Linked DNA regions of Homo sapiens: region 1 is linked to region 2. Evidence: fine-mapped expression QTL. Tissue or cell type: whole blood. Region 2 holds a variant in brackets; the other region holds the start of a gene. All regions are shown on one strand. Distances are between the middles of the regions.

What was found.
Region 1: it holds the start of GLIPR1L2, and the variant in region 2 is fine-mapped to the expression of GLIPR1L2 in whole blood (INTERVAL, PIP above 0.99).

Annotation. Positions count from the first base shown.
Region 1 is chr12:75,386,607-75,394,952 of GRCh38, forward strand. It overlaps GLIPR1L2 (GLIPR1 like 2), which reads left to right and starts at 4,483. Exons shown (of 6, transcript NM_001270396.2): 1 at 4,483-4,744. The coding sequence starts at 4,511. It also overlaps a transcript of CAPS2 not described here. RefSeq lists a silencer at 4,285-4,457 and an enhancer at 4,415-4,544.
Region 2 is chr12:75,436,912-75,445,257 of GRCh38, forward strand. No RefSeq gene overlaps it. Among named protein-coding and RNA genes, the nearest start is that of GLIPR1, 40 kb to the right of the region's middle. The variant G/C (reference allele first, on the strand shown) is at 4,258.

The DNA of each region.
Region 1 (8,346 bases), 50 kb before region 2:
CTGTTGTATTGGGGATTAATTTTCCAGCATATGAATTTAGGGGGACATATTCAAACAATAGCAAAAATACAATAATTTAAAAGGTATAGTATTGGTGAAAGTAGAAATAAATCCATGGAACAGAATAGAGAGCTGAGAAATAGAACAGCATAAATAAAGTCAACTGATCTTTGACAAAGGAGCAAAGGCAATATAATGGAGAAATGTAGTCTTTTCAACAAATGGTTCTGGAACAACTGAACGTCCATATACAAGAAAAAAAAACCAGTCTAAGCACAAACTTTATACCCTTCACAAAAATTAATCAAAATGGATCACAGACCTAAATGTAAATACAAAAGTATAAACTCCCAGAAGGTTATATAAGAGAAAATCTAGATGATCTTTAATTTGGCAATAACCTTTTAGATACAACACAAAAGGTATGATTTATGAAAGAACAAATCGATAAGCTGGGTGCCATTAAAACTAAAAATTTCTACTCAGCAAAAGACATTCTCAAGAGAATGAAAAAACAAGCCATGGCCTGGGAGAAAAATACTTACAGAAGATATATGCAATAAAAACTATTACGCACAATATGCAAAGACTCTTTAAACTCAACAATCGAAAAACAAACAGTTTAATTTAAAAATGGGTCAAAAACCTTAATGGACACCTCACCAAAGAAGACATACAGTACTCAAATAAGCATATGAAAAGGTGCATCATATGTCACCAGGAAAACGCACATTAAAATACCAATGAAATACCACTACACACCTTTTAGAATGGCCAAAATCCAGAACACTGGCAACACCAAATGCTGACAAGGATGTGGAGGAACATGAGCTCTCATTCACTGCTGGTGGGAATGCAAAATGGCACAGCCACTTTGGAACATAGTTTAGCAGTTTCTTAAAAAACTGAACATTATGCTTACTGCCATAGTCTGTTTAATGTTGCTCATAAGAAAATACCTGAAACTGAGTAAGTTATAAAGAAAAGGAATTGACTTCTTAGAATTATGGAGGCTGAGAATTTCAAAGTCAAGGGGCCATATCTGGTGTGGCCCTTCTTGCTACTGGGGACTCTGCAGAATCCCAAGGCAGCACAGAGTATCACATGGTAAAGGGGCTAAACTAATCCATTAACCCATTAATCTACGAATGGATCAATACATTCATGAGGACAGACCCAATCACTTCTTAAAGGCTCCACCTTTCAATACTGTTACATTGGGGATTAAGTTTCAACATGAATTTTGAAAGGGACAAATATCCAAACAATAGCATTTACTATAACATATAGTTATGATCCAGCAATCATGCTCATGGTATTTATCCAAAGGAGTTGAAAACTTATGTCTACACAGAAACCTGCACAAAGATGTTTATAACAACTGTATTCACATTTGCAAATTGATATGGTTTGGCTCTGTGTCCCCACCCAAATCTTACCCTGAATTGTAATAATCCCCACGTGTCATGGGAGAGACTAGGTGAGAGGTAACTGAATCATGGGGGCAGGTTTTTCCCGTGCTGTTCTCATGGTAATGATTATGTCTCATGAGATCTGATGGTTTTATAAAGAGTAGTTCCCCTGCACATGGTCTCTTGGCTGCCACCATGTAAGATGTCCCTTTGCTCCTCCTTCGTCTTCCACTATGATTGCGAGGGCTCCCAGCCATGTGGAACTGTGAGTTCATCAAACCTCTTTCCTTTATAAATTACCCAGTCTTGGGTCTGTCTTTATTAGTGGCATGAGAATAGAATAATACACCAATACCTAGAATCAGCCAACATGTCCTTCAGTAGCTACTGGAATAAAGAAATGTTGGTACATCCAGAAAATGAAAAATTATTCAGTGCTAAAAAGAAATTAGGTATCAAGCCACGAAAAGACATGGAAGAAATTTACACACATATTACTAAGTGAAAGAAGCCAATCTGAAAAGACTACATACTGTATGACTCCAACTATATGACATTCTGGAAAAAGCAAAACTATGAAGACAGTAAAAAAAAATTAGTAGTTGCCGGGGTTAGGAGGCAGGGAGAGATGAATAGTCTGAGCACCAGGGATTTTTAGGCAGCAAAACGACTCTATATGGTACTAAATGCTGGAAACATGTCATTATACATTTATACCAACCCATGAAATGTGCAACACCAAGAATGAGCCCTAATATACACTATGAACTCTGGGTGGGAATAATGGATAAATGTAGGTTCATCAGTTGTAAATGTACTACTCTGTTGTGGGATGTTGATAATGAGGGAGTTTATGTATGTGTGGGGACAGGAGTTACATGAGAAATCTCTGTACCTTCCTCTCAGTTTTGTTGTGAACCTAAAACTGCTATTAAAAAAGAGTCTATTTTTAGAAAAGGAATTGGTAAAAAAAACAAAACAAAACAAAAAAAACACAGAAGTAGCTCTACCACTCCCTGGCTGGGTGGCCTCAGGCAATTTGATTTCTCTTTTTCTCAGTTGTTTTTCCATCTGTTAAAGGGATAATAACTATTTCTTAAGATTTGTGTGACTTGAGTGAGTTGATATTGTCCAAGCATTTTAAATAGTGCCTGACACATTAAATATTTGTGAAATAGATTAAAAATAGTATTCACCACTCTGTATTGTAACTGTTTGATGATTCATCTGTGTCACCTTTAATTAAAAGCTCCCTGTGGATAGACTCCATGTCTAGCTTGTTCAGCATTTGAGCCTTTAGCTGGGCTGTGACACACAGGAAGTACCAAGGAAATATTTATTGAATGAGATGTCTAGCAGTGGAATGGGCTTCCCTGTTGGTCTAATTATTTAAGAAAAGGATGTGATGATCACCTGTCAGTGATGTTCCGGAGAGTATACCTAACACAGGAGGCTAGCAATAGTGGCTAAAATTTCTTCCAAATCTAAGATTGCATTATTCTATTTATACTTTTTCTTTAGCATTTTTTGCAGTCTAACAACAGTACCACCATAATAAAAGAATTGCATCTTTCAGCACTTGCCACCTTCACCCTTAAATAGGTTCTAGCCATACTAAAATACTTCTAGCGTTTAGGATCTTCCTCTCCTTAGGCACATTACATGCTTTTCCCTTTGTTTAGAATGCTATCTTAGACTTGTCTGTTTCACTTTCTGTATACAATTTCCAGAAAGGCTTCCCTGCTCCTCCACAAGAGTACCAAGCAATAGAATTTTGGCTTTGTATTTATCACGTTTTAAATACTGCCTGATTGCTAATTCACTAAATTGTAAGCTGCTTGAAAGCTGGATCTGTGTCTTGTCTACTGATCTTTCTCAATCACTTAAAACTTACTACTATGCAGTCATAGTAGTAAGTATTCAAGGGCATAAATGAAACCATCTTACATAGGTCTATTGTTTTTCAATTGTGTGCATCACAGACAATTTTTAAAAGCACTTTTCTTTTTATAAATGTTTGGCTAACCTGTTACAATGTTTTGTAGTAAAATTCTCTCCCAATGTCAATTTTCCATATCTGCTTAATGCTATTAAGCACAATATGTAATATGCAAACGTGTATTCCAAAACTAATACTTGCTTTTTTTCCATGCTTAGAATTTAAAGTCTTCAAAGCAAGTTGGTTTTGTTTTGTTTTGTTTTTGAGGAAAATGTTTGGAGGTAAACAGATCAGACCAAAATCAGCTAGATATTAGCCAATTTTGTCTGGAACAAAAAAAGAAAACAAAAGAGTTCGTTCTTACTGTGAATGCCACAATTAGTGAAAAAGATGAATCTTGATATTCCGGGCTGTCTGAATTGTGCTGATGAGAGAAGAAGTAGAAATGTTTTAACCTTTGAAGAGTTTGGTGATCCCTACTCTCCCTTCACTCCCATTTATTTTGTGGTTTCCCACAAAGGTTCATTTAAAAACTGAAAAAAATCTCATCAATTAAGTTGGCCTTAAGAACTTCTTTGGCCTTAAGAACTAGCAATATTTCTGTATTCCATTCTGTCCCTGAGGAAAATAAAAGGCAGGCCCTGCACCAAATTTCCAACTCAACAGGTAATGGGGAAAAAAAATTTAATTGAATTTGTATCTGTATCGCAGAAAAATCATTTCACCTGGCACAATTAGAAGGTTCCTCAGACCTGTTACTCAGCAATTGGCATTTACCATACAAACTGATGACTCATTAATAACGACATATCATTCAGTGTCAGAAATCAATTCGGGATAACATTTCACTACATTAGTTTAGTGAAAAGGGCTTACTCACGTAACACAAGTCTTTCTTTAGTTTGTCAGACATCTATTACCAGCTTTCTTCACTCTGCAGGTCTAGCTTTCCCCTCCTCTCCCCCTCCCCTACCCACTCTCCCCTCCCTCTTCTCTCCTCCCTCCTCCTTACCCCCTCCTCCCTCCTTTGTTTTTCCCTCCTCCCTCCTCCCTTTCTCCTTCCGGGAGGCGGGACAAGGCTTGCTTGCGTCCTCCGTAGATTGGCAGGTCACTGGGACGGCCAGCGCGTGCGCACTGGCCTGTCAGCGGCCGGTGGACCATGGAGGCCGCAAGGCCCTTCGCCCGGGAGTGGAGGGCCCAGTCCCTACCCCTGGCAGTAGGGGGCGTTTTGAAGCTGCGGCTCTGTGAGCTGTGGCTACTGCTACTGGGTTCTAGTTTGAACGCCAGATTTTTGCCAGACGAGGAGGACGTAGACTTTATCAACGAGTACGTGAACCTCCACAATGAGCTGCGGGGCGACGTCATTCCCCGAGGGTCTAACTTGCGCTTCATGGTGAGGCCGGAAGGCGGTTTGCCGACCCTTCCACTACCGTTGCCACAACGCCTCCCTGGATCTCGGGTAGTTGGGGCCACTGCTCTGAGGCTGAAGGATCGCGGAGAACCGCACTTTTAGCTTGGTTTTTAAAGTACACGTGAAGTTTACACAGAGAAAAACTGCGGACACTCTAACACATGCTTATTACCATGATATTACACAGGGCCAGGACTAAGGTGATGGAGGCACTGGCCTGAAGTGCAGATTTTAAGGGGGCGCCAATTCAAGAAAATGATATTTTAATGCAACGGGTTTTTAAAAATTAAAAATCAGTGCAAAAATATCAATATCAAGGGTAAAGAAAATGTTAAAAAATTTAACAAAGACAGGTTCCTTGGGTCTGGATTAGGGAAAAACAAGTGCGACACTCTCAGGGTGGTGCAAATCAAGATGAGATTCTGTTTGTATTTGAAATTTTTATTTTTAGCTTTTTCCATCATCGATGTCACATTAGCTTTGCCTTTTAAAAATGTTTGTTATCTTGATTTTTTTTTTTTGTGCCCATTCCAAATTTGGCTCCTAAGGAAGTGTCTCAGTTTCCTCACCCTAGTCTTGACCCTGATTTTGCCTTACCTTACAATGCGGTTCTTGCTTTCCCCCTCTTTTACACCCTATAGTCATTTAACAACTCAACTATTCCCTGGTTGCTATTGAGTTTTCCTGACTGTCATTAAAATGACTGAAAATCCGGCAAATAAATAACTGTCCTCTTAGGGAATTAGAAGCTTCAAACTTATAAATTATATTGCAAGGACTACTTTCCTAGACATGTCTTTTCTTCCTTCAGCATTAGTTCTTAGCACAAATTTCAGAAATGGGATAAATAAATTAAGGGTATGATATTTTTTATTAATTTAACACATAGCAATTGCTATGCTAAAGGGTAGTGCCAAATTTAGCAAATACCAGCTGTTCTGTTTTCACCACATCCTCACTGATTTGGACATGTTCAATTACTTGCTAAATGAATAAATTACAAAAATGGTCATTTGTTTTAATGTTGATTTTAAAATACTATTTTGATAGGACATACTTGAGTTCTTTCTTCGTCATTTCCTTTACCTTTTATATTGTCAGCATTTCCATGTCAGATTATATGCTGTCTTATAGAACTATGCTAGCATTTGGTTCTATCTGCTGAAGATACTTTTTTCTAAGCCAATTCTTTTTCTTTTGAATTCAATTATAGAGTTTGGGGATATTTGGGAGTTTCAACTAATTTCCCATTTTTTGTGACTAATTCTGTTTCTTCCCAATTTGAAGATTATCCTTACTCCTGAAAATTAATAAACACATAATACTTTCTAATACAACTTTTCATAGGTTTTCTATCTCATCTCTAAAAATTATATAGTATTTCAAACATAAGGTATATAAAATAATATACCTGTATACCCACAATCGATATTTTTAAATATAGACATTTTTAAAGGAATAGTATTTGATATATAGGTTAAAGTCCCACCCTAAATTTTTACCTTTTTCTTCTTTCTTGAAGTTAATGTATATTTTTCCCATGTATTTTATTAGGACATAAATATTAACTGTAAATAGTATAGTCTATCATAATAGTATGGCCTATTTAAAATGTTTCTTTAGCAGATTTGGACATCACTCAGCTTATTTAAACTCTTTTATTGGTTATTTTTAGTATTTTAATGTATGTACTTTTTATAAATTCCAAAAGTTAATACCTGTAAACTCCACCCAAATATTAATAAGATCTTAGAACACAAATTCTGAATACTTTCCATCCTTATTCATGCTATTGCCGTGTAGTACTTTTGTTCTACCTTGCTTTTAAATACCAAAAAAATTGTTGTTTTTAAAAAATTGTATTACAATATACAGGACATAACATTTACCATTTTAACCATTTTTAAGTGTATAGTTCAGTGGCATTAAGTACATTTGCATTGTTGTGCACCCATTACCACCACCTATCTCCAAAATTTTTTCGTCTTCCTGAACTGAGACTCCATACCCATCAAATAATTACTTTACTCTCCATCTCCCCTCCTCCCAGGCCTCTATCACCATTCTACTTTCTATTCCTATTAATTTGACTTCTTAAGGTACCAAATATAAGTGGAATCATATAATATTTGTCTTTGTTACTAGCTTATTTCATTTGGTATAATGTCTATAAAGTTCACCCATGTTGTAGCATGTGTCAGAATTACCTGTCTTTTTACAGCTGAATAATATTCTACTGTATGCATATACCACATTTTGTTTATCCATTCATTGGTCAGTGGATATTTAGATTGCTTCCATTATTTGGCTGTTGTGAATAATACTGCTATAGACATGGGTGTACATTTATCTGCTCCAGTTCCTGATTTTGCTGTTTTTGGGTATATACCCAGAACTGGAATTGCTGTATCATATGATAATTCTGTTTAATTTTTCAAAGAACCCCCATTCTGTTTTCCATAGTGGCTGCACCATTTTACATTCCCACCAAGAATGTTCAAGGGTTCAATTTCTCCACATCCTTGATAACACTTGTTATTTTCTGTTTTATTTTCCTTATTCCTCTTTTTTTCTTAATGATAACCATCTAGCAGTTATGAAGTGATACCTCACTGTATTTTTTATCTGCATTTCCCTAATGATTACTGATATTGAGCATCTTTTTATTTGCTTCTTGACCAAGATTTTCTCTTCTTTGAAGAACTATCTATTCAAGTCGTTTGCACATTTTTTGGCCAACTTGTTAGATTTTTTGTTGTTGAATTATAGGAATTTTTATAGATTCTGGATATTAATCTTTTTCAGATATATGATTTGAAAGTATTTTCTCCCGTTTTGTAAGTTGCCTTTGCACTCTATTGATAATATCCTTTGATAAACAAAAGTTTTTAACGTCAATGAAGTATAATTTATCATTTTTTGTTGTTATTGTATGTATTTTTTGTCGTATCCAAGAAGTCATTGCCAAATTCAATATCATGAAGCTTTTCCCCTGTGCTTTTTAAAGGTTTTATAGTTTTAGGTCTTTGAGTTAAGTTTTGTATATTGTGTAAGGTAAGGGTCCAGCTTATTCTTTTGCATGTGGATATCCAGTTTTCCTAACTTCATTTGCTGGAAAGATTGTTATTTTCCCCATAAAATGGTCTTTCCACCCTTGTTAAAAATCGTTTGACCATATATGCTGGCATTTATTTTGGGGCCCTCTATTCCATTCTGTTAGTCTAATATGTCTGTATGCTATTAATAGTTCCACAATGATTACTGTAGAATACTGGTAAGTAGAAATTAGGAAGTGTGCATTCTTCAACTTTTTTCATCTTCTTCAAGATTATTTTGGCCATACAGGGTCCTTTCAGATTTTTTACGAATTTTGAGATGTATTTTTGTATTTCTGCAAAAAAAAAAAAAAAAAAAAACATTATTGGGATTTTGATATGGGTTTCCTTGATTTGTAACATTTTGGGTAGAACAGGCATCTTAACAATATAAAGTATTCCAATACTTTAACACAGTATGTCTTTTCACTTTCTAATATCCACCTTAATTTCTTTCAGTAATATTTTATTTTCAGTATATATGTTTTT
Region 2 (8,346 bases):
TTGCTTAAGATTGCCTATAACTCATAGGTTTGGTCACTTTACATAATCCCATATTTCTTGAAGGCTTTGTTTATTTATTTTATTTTATTTTTTAAATTTTTGTCTGCCTAGGTTAAATCAAAGGATTGGTCTTCGAGCTCTAAAAGTCTTTCTTATGCTTGTTCCAGTCTATTGTTAAAGCTTTCAGTTGTATTTTGTAACTCCTTCAATAATTTTTTTTATTTCCAGAAGTTCAGTTTGCTTTTTAATATGTATTTCTTTAGTAATTGTTTATTCATATTCTGAGTTTTTTTCTGATTTCGTGTTGGTTTTCAACTTTATCTTGGACCTCATTGAGCTTCCTTACAATACATATTTTAAATTCTTTATCTGTCATTTTAGAATTTTCATTTTGATTAAGATCCATTGCTAGAGAGCTAGTATGATCCTTTGGGAGTGTTGAAACACTGGTTTTTTATACTGTTGGAATTCTTACGCTGATTCCTTCTCATCTGAGGAAGCTATCATTTTTTATTTTTGAATTTACTTTCTTTTGAATGACACTTTTTTTCCCTCGAGGGTGTGACTGTAGTAATGTATATTGTGTATAATCATTTGGCTTTGATTCTGGGTGCTTTCAGTGAGCCAAGGTTCTGTATGAGTTCCTTAGTTATAGATAGCTTTTGTGTGGTGGCTTTCTTAAATGCTGATTGTAGTAGCAATGTATTGGGTATATAAGCAGGCTCACTACCTTCTGCCGGGCTGAGAGTGCAGAGGCCTCAGGAAGCTTATCTCATTCCCTAGCACTGTGCTCTTCAGTCAGCAGGTTTTATATTTGGTTGGGCACTTCAATTTCCAGTCCAGTAGGTGGTGCTTATGGGTAAAAGCTGGCTACCACAGAGGTTGATGCCTATGTTCTTTTTCTTTGTTCACTGGGAGGGGATTTCTGTTGTCACAGGCAGTTGGCTGGTCTGTGGACTACTCAATGCCCTGAGTTCCTCACTCAGCCCAGAGCAAGGGACAAATTTGGGCAGAGCTGGACTTCCAAACTCGTCTTTGAATACCCCAGTTACTAGTGGAAGCACCCACCCTGATGGGGCAGGGGGGCAGAGAGGGGCTCAGGGTCCTGAGGTCTCCACTATGGGGGGATAAAGGAGGCTGCACTAAACAAGAAGACAGTCTGCTTCCCTATCACACACCTGTCCAGGGGCTTTTGTTATTTGGTTCAAATAGATATTGTCCTTATCCTCAGCCCACAATTCAGCTGAGGTCAAGAAACATTCCCATTCCATGGCTACTCCTGAAATGGCCTTGGGGCAGAACCTCTTCCCTCAAACCTTAACAGACAGCTCTGCAACTCACTTGCACTCTGCCATAGGAATGCGAATGCTCCACATTGGGATGGGCCCCACCCTTTGTGCAAGCTTAGGCCAGTAGGCACACCATCTGTGGGGGTGAATTAACCCTCAATAGCCCTAGAAATGTTCTCCCCAGGTGCTGTTGTGCCAATTCCCAGCAGGGACAGCTGCTACTGTGTCAATTCCCAGCAGGGACATCCACAGCAGTAGATGAGGGGTGGAGGAGACCTTATTTCCACATCCGTTCCAGGCACTGGTACTGCCTGGCTGCTGTGGTGGAACCACCCTCCTCCCCTACAGAGCCCAACACCACACCCATTTCTCCGCTGGGAGGGGCACAATCATCGTCTTCTCACAAGCAGGGAGCTCTCAGGCAGATGAGAGTGCACAGTCTGGTTTCCTTTGTCCCAAAGGGTGCTTTGGCACTCTCTCCCTTTGGTGTGGGTGAGGGTGGGATTTTTGATCTGCAGTTGGCTGTATCCACAGACACAGCACCTGCAGATATGGAGGGCCAACTGTACTGCCTCTATGCTGGAACTTTAGCTGCACCTTCAAAAGACTATCCTAATGGTTTATCGGCCAGCAATTTCTACATAGTGTGATGTATAATACAACCAGTGGGTTCCACAGTCAGGACACCCCTCCTGAAACTCCTTTACTGCAAAGTGATACCTCTGATTGGATGCTTGCTTCTGTGGGATTCTATGCCTGTGAATCAGGAACTCAGTAAATCCCCAAATTGTGGTGTTGGCTAAGACTCTGAGGGCTGGAAAGTCAAATTCATATCCAGAATGGGTGTCAGAACAGGTATCTGTTTCAACGAGAAAGAACTATTGACTTTTCCACGATGGAAGGGGACTAATATAGTCAATTTATTACAAAATGCCAGTTGGTCTTTTCAAATAGTAGCATGGTGGGGACTCATCTACATTGTTGATAGGTCATACATACAGAGGTATTTGGATCAGCCTCAATAAGTGGGAGTTCATACAAACAGACTTATGTGTTGCATTCATGCATTCCATTTGCCTGTAATACTTATTCTGGGTAGAAAAAGGACCAAGGCTGACTAATGTCAACTGGTTGAGTCATTTTGTCTATTGATTATTCAGTGGCTCTGATAGGCATTAATCTATAGAAACTTTTCACACACCATTCCCACTCCCATATCTCCACTCATATGTCATTGGCCCAGACCCTCTTATTTCTGATCTTCCAATTCTTTTATTTCTAAACCCCTGAACTCTGGCCAGGCATTTGCCACAGTTCACACTTATTTTCACCTCAGGCCACTTCTGCTTTCATACAAAGTGAATGGCCAGGTACACCCAAAGTTCCACCTTGAAAATGTTCTCTCACCACTGTCTTTCAAGGCCGCCGCCCCTGAGTATGGCTGTAATGTAGCCATTGTCCATTTTCAGCTTGTACCCACCTGTCAAGCCAACCAACTGATAAACCAAGAATGAACTTTTTTTCATTTCCTTTATCTAGTGGGACAGGAACCCATCTCTCATATGGTGCTAAGTGAGAGCTGAAAGAAGATTACTGGTACAACTGTGGTGGGTGATATGGAGCTCTAGCTTGTCTGCTTACGTAGTTTACTTATGCCCTCTGTTTCTACTTAGATACAATCTTAAATGTACCATTTACATCTTATAGATATGTTGTAACTGGAACTGCCTAACTTTATGATTCAATCTGACAAAACACAAATCATGATGGATGGTTCTGGACACATGGTCACTTGGTATCCTATCAGTTTCTATGCTTCTGTCTTTGTAATAGAGAATACAAATGCAGCAATTTGTGCATCAGCATCTTCCTGACCCCTGAATTTCTAAAGTTCTTATTGAAGTGACAGATTCCTCTGGAGTGCATATGCCTTACCAAGACCTCTAGTATGCTAGTCACTTCTTGCTCATCCTGCCAGATCAGCATGATGCCATTAATATAATAAATCAATTTGAAATTGTACAGGATTCCAGACAGTCCAGATCTCTTCTAAATATTTTCTGTCAGTGGGTAGAACTGTTAACATAGCTCTAGGGCAAAATTTTATTCTTTCCATGTGAGTGCAAACTATTTCTGATTCTCTTGATTGATTAGGATTAAAAAAACACATTTGCCAAACTAATGCTGCATACTATATATCTGAGGCCTTATTAATCTGCTCAAGCAATAATACAACATTCAGCATGGCAGCTATGACTGGTTCTATTACTTGGTTGACCTTGTGGTAGTCCACAGGTTTCCTCCAAGATCCATCTATTTTCAGCAGGGACCAGACTGGTCCATTAAAAATACATAGGATAGGCCAGGTATTGTGGTTCATGCTTATAATCCTAGCACTTTGGGAGGCTGAGGTAAGTGGATTGCCTGAGCACAGGAGTTTGGGACCGACCTGGGCAACATGGTGAGACCCCACCTCTACTAAAAATACAAAAAATTAGCCAGGTGTGGTGGTGCATGCCTGTAATACCAGGTACTCAGGAGACTGAGGTACGAGAATCACTTGAATCTGGGAGGTGGAGGTTGCAGTGAGCTGAGATTGCGCCACTTCACTCCAGCCTGAGCAACAGAGTGAGACTCTGTGATATAGTTTGGCTGTGTCCCCGCCCAAATCTCAATTTGAATTGTATCTCCCAGAATCCCCATGTGTTCTGGGAGGGACCCAGGGGGAGGTAATTGAATAATGGAGGCCAGTCTTTCCCATGCTATTCTTGTGATAGAGAATAAGCCTCACGAGATCTGATGGGTTTTTCAGGAGTTTCTCCTTTTGCTTCTTTTTCATTTTCTCTTGCTACCACCATGTAAGAAGTGCATTTGCCTCTCGCCATGATTCTGAGGCCTCCCCAGCCATGTGGAGGTATAAGTCCAATTAAACCTCTTTTTCTTCCCAGTCTCAGGTGTGTTTTTATCA[G/C]CAGCATGAAAAAGACTAATTCAGTAAATTGGTACCAGTAGAGTGGGGCATTGCTAAAAAGATACCCAAAAATGTGGAAGCTACTTTGGAACTGGGTAACAGGCAGAGGTTGGAACAGTTTGGAGGGCTCAGAAGAAGACAGAAAAATGTGGGAAAGTTAGAGATTTGGTGAATGGCTTTGACCAAAATGCTGATAGCAATATGGACAATAAGGTCCAGGCTGATGTGGTCTCAGATGGAGATGAGGAACTTGTTGGGAACTGGAGTAAAGGTGACTCTTGTTATGTTTTAGCAAAGAGACTGGCGGCATTTTGCCCCTGCTCTAAAGATTTGTGGAAGTTTGAACTTGAGAAATATGATTTAGGGTATTTGGTGGGAGAAATTTCTAAGCAGCAAAGCAAGAGGTGACTTGGGTGCTGTTAAAGGCATTCAGTTTTATAAGGGAGGCAGAGCATAAAAGTTTGGAAAATTTGCAGCCTGACTAATTTCTTCTGGGGAGAAATTGAAGCTGGCTGCAGAAATTTGCATAAGTAGCAAGAATTCTAATGTTAATCTCCAAAACAATGGGGAAAATATCTCCAGGCCATGTCAGAGACCTTTGTGGAAGCCCCTCCCATCACAGGCCAGTAGGAAAAAGTGGTTTTGTGGGCTGGGCCCAGGGTCCCCGTGCTGTGTGCAGTCTAGGAACTTGGTACCCTGTGTCCCAGCTGCTCCAGCCGTGGCTGAAAGGGGCCAAGGTACAGCTGGGGCTGTTGCTTCAGAGGGTAGAAGCCTCAAGCCTTGGCAGCTTCCATGTAGTGTTGAGCCTGTGGGTACACAGAAGTCAAGAATTGAGGTTTGGGAACTTCAGCCTAGATTTCAGAAGATGTATGGAAATAACTGGATGCCCAGGCAAAAGATTGCTGCAAGGGCGGGGCCCTCATTGAGAACCTCTGCTAGGGCAGTGAGGAAGAAAATGTGGCATCAGAGACCCCACACAGAGTCCCTACTGAGGAACCACCTAGTGGAGCTGTGAGAAAAGGACCACTGTCCTCCAGACCCCAGAATGGTAGATCTACCAACAGCTTGCACCATGCACCTGGAAAAGCCACAGATACTTAATGCCAGCCCATGAAAGCAGCTGGGAGAGAGGCTGTACCCCGCAAAGCCACAGGGGCACAGCTGCCCAAGACCATGGGAACCTACCTCTTGCATCAGGGTAACCTGGATGTGAAACATAAAGTCAAAGGAGATCATTTTGGAGCTTTAAAATTTGACTGCCCTGCTGGATTTCAGACTTGCATGGGCCCTGTAACCCCTTTGTTACACCCAATTCCTCCCATTTGGAATGGCTGTATTTACCCAATACCTGTACCCCCATTGTATCTAGGAAGTAACTAGCTTGCTTTTGATTTTACAGGCTCACAGAAGGAAGAGACTTGCCTTGTCTCAGATGAGACTTTGGACTGTGGACTTTTGAGTTAATGCTTAAACGAGTTAAGACTTTGGGGGACTGTTGGGAAGGCATGAATGGTTTTGAAATGCGAGGACATGAGATTTGGAGGGTACATCTTTATCAGCAGTGTGAAAACAGACTAATACACTCTGTCTCCAAAATATATATGATAGGGACTACCATTCCTCCGATTTTAGATCTTTAAAGGGGAACAAATCTCTGTCATATCTTCAGGAAACAATATTGTTTTTTATTTTCTGTCTTTAAGCTTGGTAATGTCAGAGGCTGTGTCTTCCTCCACAGCCAAGGACCCAATGTCGAAGACTATCCAATAGTAAATTGGAGAGCCAGAGAAATGACCATGCAGTAAATCTGCAAACCAAATGGACCCACTGCAAGATAAACTTTAGCTAGTAATATTTTACCTTGCCCCATTCACCTCCATGTAACAGGGCCCATGGTGATACTTTGGCTCTCTGCATATCAATGTCAACCCAGATCCTGTGTCCAATAGTCTCCCAACTGTGTGTATATTCTCCTTTTCAAGTACTTATTCACCACATAAATGTCCATGGATCCCTTTGGGAAAGACTAGACAAATCTTTAGAGTACATACAGAAGGGGGTTACTAAGGAATCTTTAAAGTACGTACCAGTGGCGTTTTTCCAAGGAATTCAGCCACCTCTTTAGTCTGTAGGTTCCAGGTCTGAAAACTGTCTGAAATCCAGTAATTAAGCAAGGGATCATGATTTTTTACGACTTACTTCCTTGAACCACTGCTAAAACCAGCTGTGCTAGTTCAGATTCTCCAATACTAAAAAGAAGGTGTGCTAGTTCAGAAGGCAATGTCAAGATAACGTCAGAAGCGCAAGAGATAGTGGTCCAAGAGACTTACCTCCTTGGACCACTACTAAACTTACTAAGACTTACTTCCTTGGGCCACTAGTTCAGACGCTCCACTACTAAAACCAGCCATGAGAAGTGCAAGAGATTTATTCATTGATGGGTGTAAAAGCTAAGGCATTAACTAGTATGATATGGGAAGGAGAAAGAAAAAGAGTAACTTTACAGGAGAGAAAACTGACAAACACTACCTCAGCCAGGTGATCCAGGTCACCATCAGGTCAACATCAAGTCATGTTAATAGTCACGTTAATAGTATGTATTTTTGATATGACGAGAATAGCACTTTTCCTCCGTGGTCTTCTTCCCAAGAATACATAATCCCAGCCTAACTGTGAGAAAAGCAACAGATGAATCTCAAATGAGGAACATTCTCTAAAATACCTGACAAGTACTCTTTAAAACTGTCAAAGTCATCAAAAACAAAGGAAGTCTGAGAAACCATCACAAACACAAGGAGACTAAGATTAGAAGTATGTCTACTCAATGTAATATGATATCCTGAATGGGATTTTGGAAGGGAAAATAAAAGGGTATTAAGTAAAAACTAAAAAAAAAAAAATAAAGTGTGGACTTTAGGTTAATGATAATGTATCAACATTGGCTCATTAATCATGAAAAATGTTCAATGTAAGATGTTAACAATAGGGGAAAGTTGGTATGAGGTATATGGGAACTCTGTACTATAAAATTTTCTGCAAATCTAAATGTGTCCTAAAATATAGAAGTTTCTTAAGAACATTTTGTAAAAAGTGTATTTTATGGCACATGAAAATTACATAAAATTTAAATTACAGTGGCCATGAAAAAAGTTTTATTATATCACACACACACACACACACACACACACACACACACACACACACAATAAATGGCAGAGGAAACAGGAGTAGACAGAAAATGCTTTATACCACAATGTATATCTGATACTTTTGAAGGGGAGTGGGGCTGGGGGAAGGACAGAGATTCAGGAGGAAGAGGCTCTAATTGCAACTCTGAAAAAATCTGAGCCCACGCAAGGGAAAGTTGTGGCACAAAAATCCTCAGTGGAGATCTTTTGTGTCGGGAGAAGTATGTGTTGGGCAAAAATGTCTTAGTACAGTGTCATGCTTAGTCATTGAGTGGGGCTGGCCAGGAAAAGAGTGGCCTTGGCTGAAATGCTGTGGCAGATTTCAAAGGTGCTGCAGCTGGAGACTGTCAGCTCACTGCACTCCTTTTGACAAGTTCTCTTGAAGGGAAATCTCAGGGATGTGCCTCCATATTGCCACATGGGTAAAGCAGATTCACCTGAGTAACTGAGAGTGACATTTCACATAGATCAAAGCTGTAGGGAAAAGAGAGATCAGACTGTTACTGTGTCTATGTAGAAAAGGAAGACATAAGAAACTCCATTTTAACCTGTTCTCTGAACAATTGCTTTGCCCTGAGATGCTGTTAATCTGTAACTTTGCCACAACCTTGAACTCACAAAAACATGTGTTGTATGGAATCAAGGTTTAAGGGATCTAGGGCTGTACAGGATGTGCCTTGTTAACAAAATGTTTACAGGCAGTATGCTTGGTAAAAGTCATCGCCATTCTCCATTCTCAATAAACCACGGGCACAAACACCGCAGAAAGCCGCAGGGACATCTGCCCTGAAAAGCCGAGTATTGTCCAAGGTTTCTCCCTATGTGATAGCCTGAGATATGGCCTCGTGGGATGGGAAAGACCTGACCATCCCCCAGCCTGACATCCATGAAGGGTCTGTAC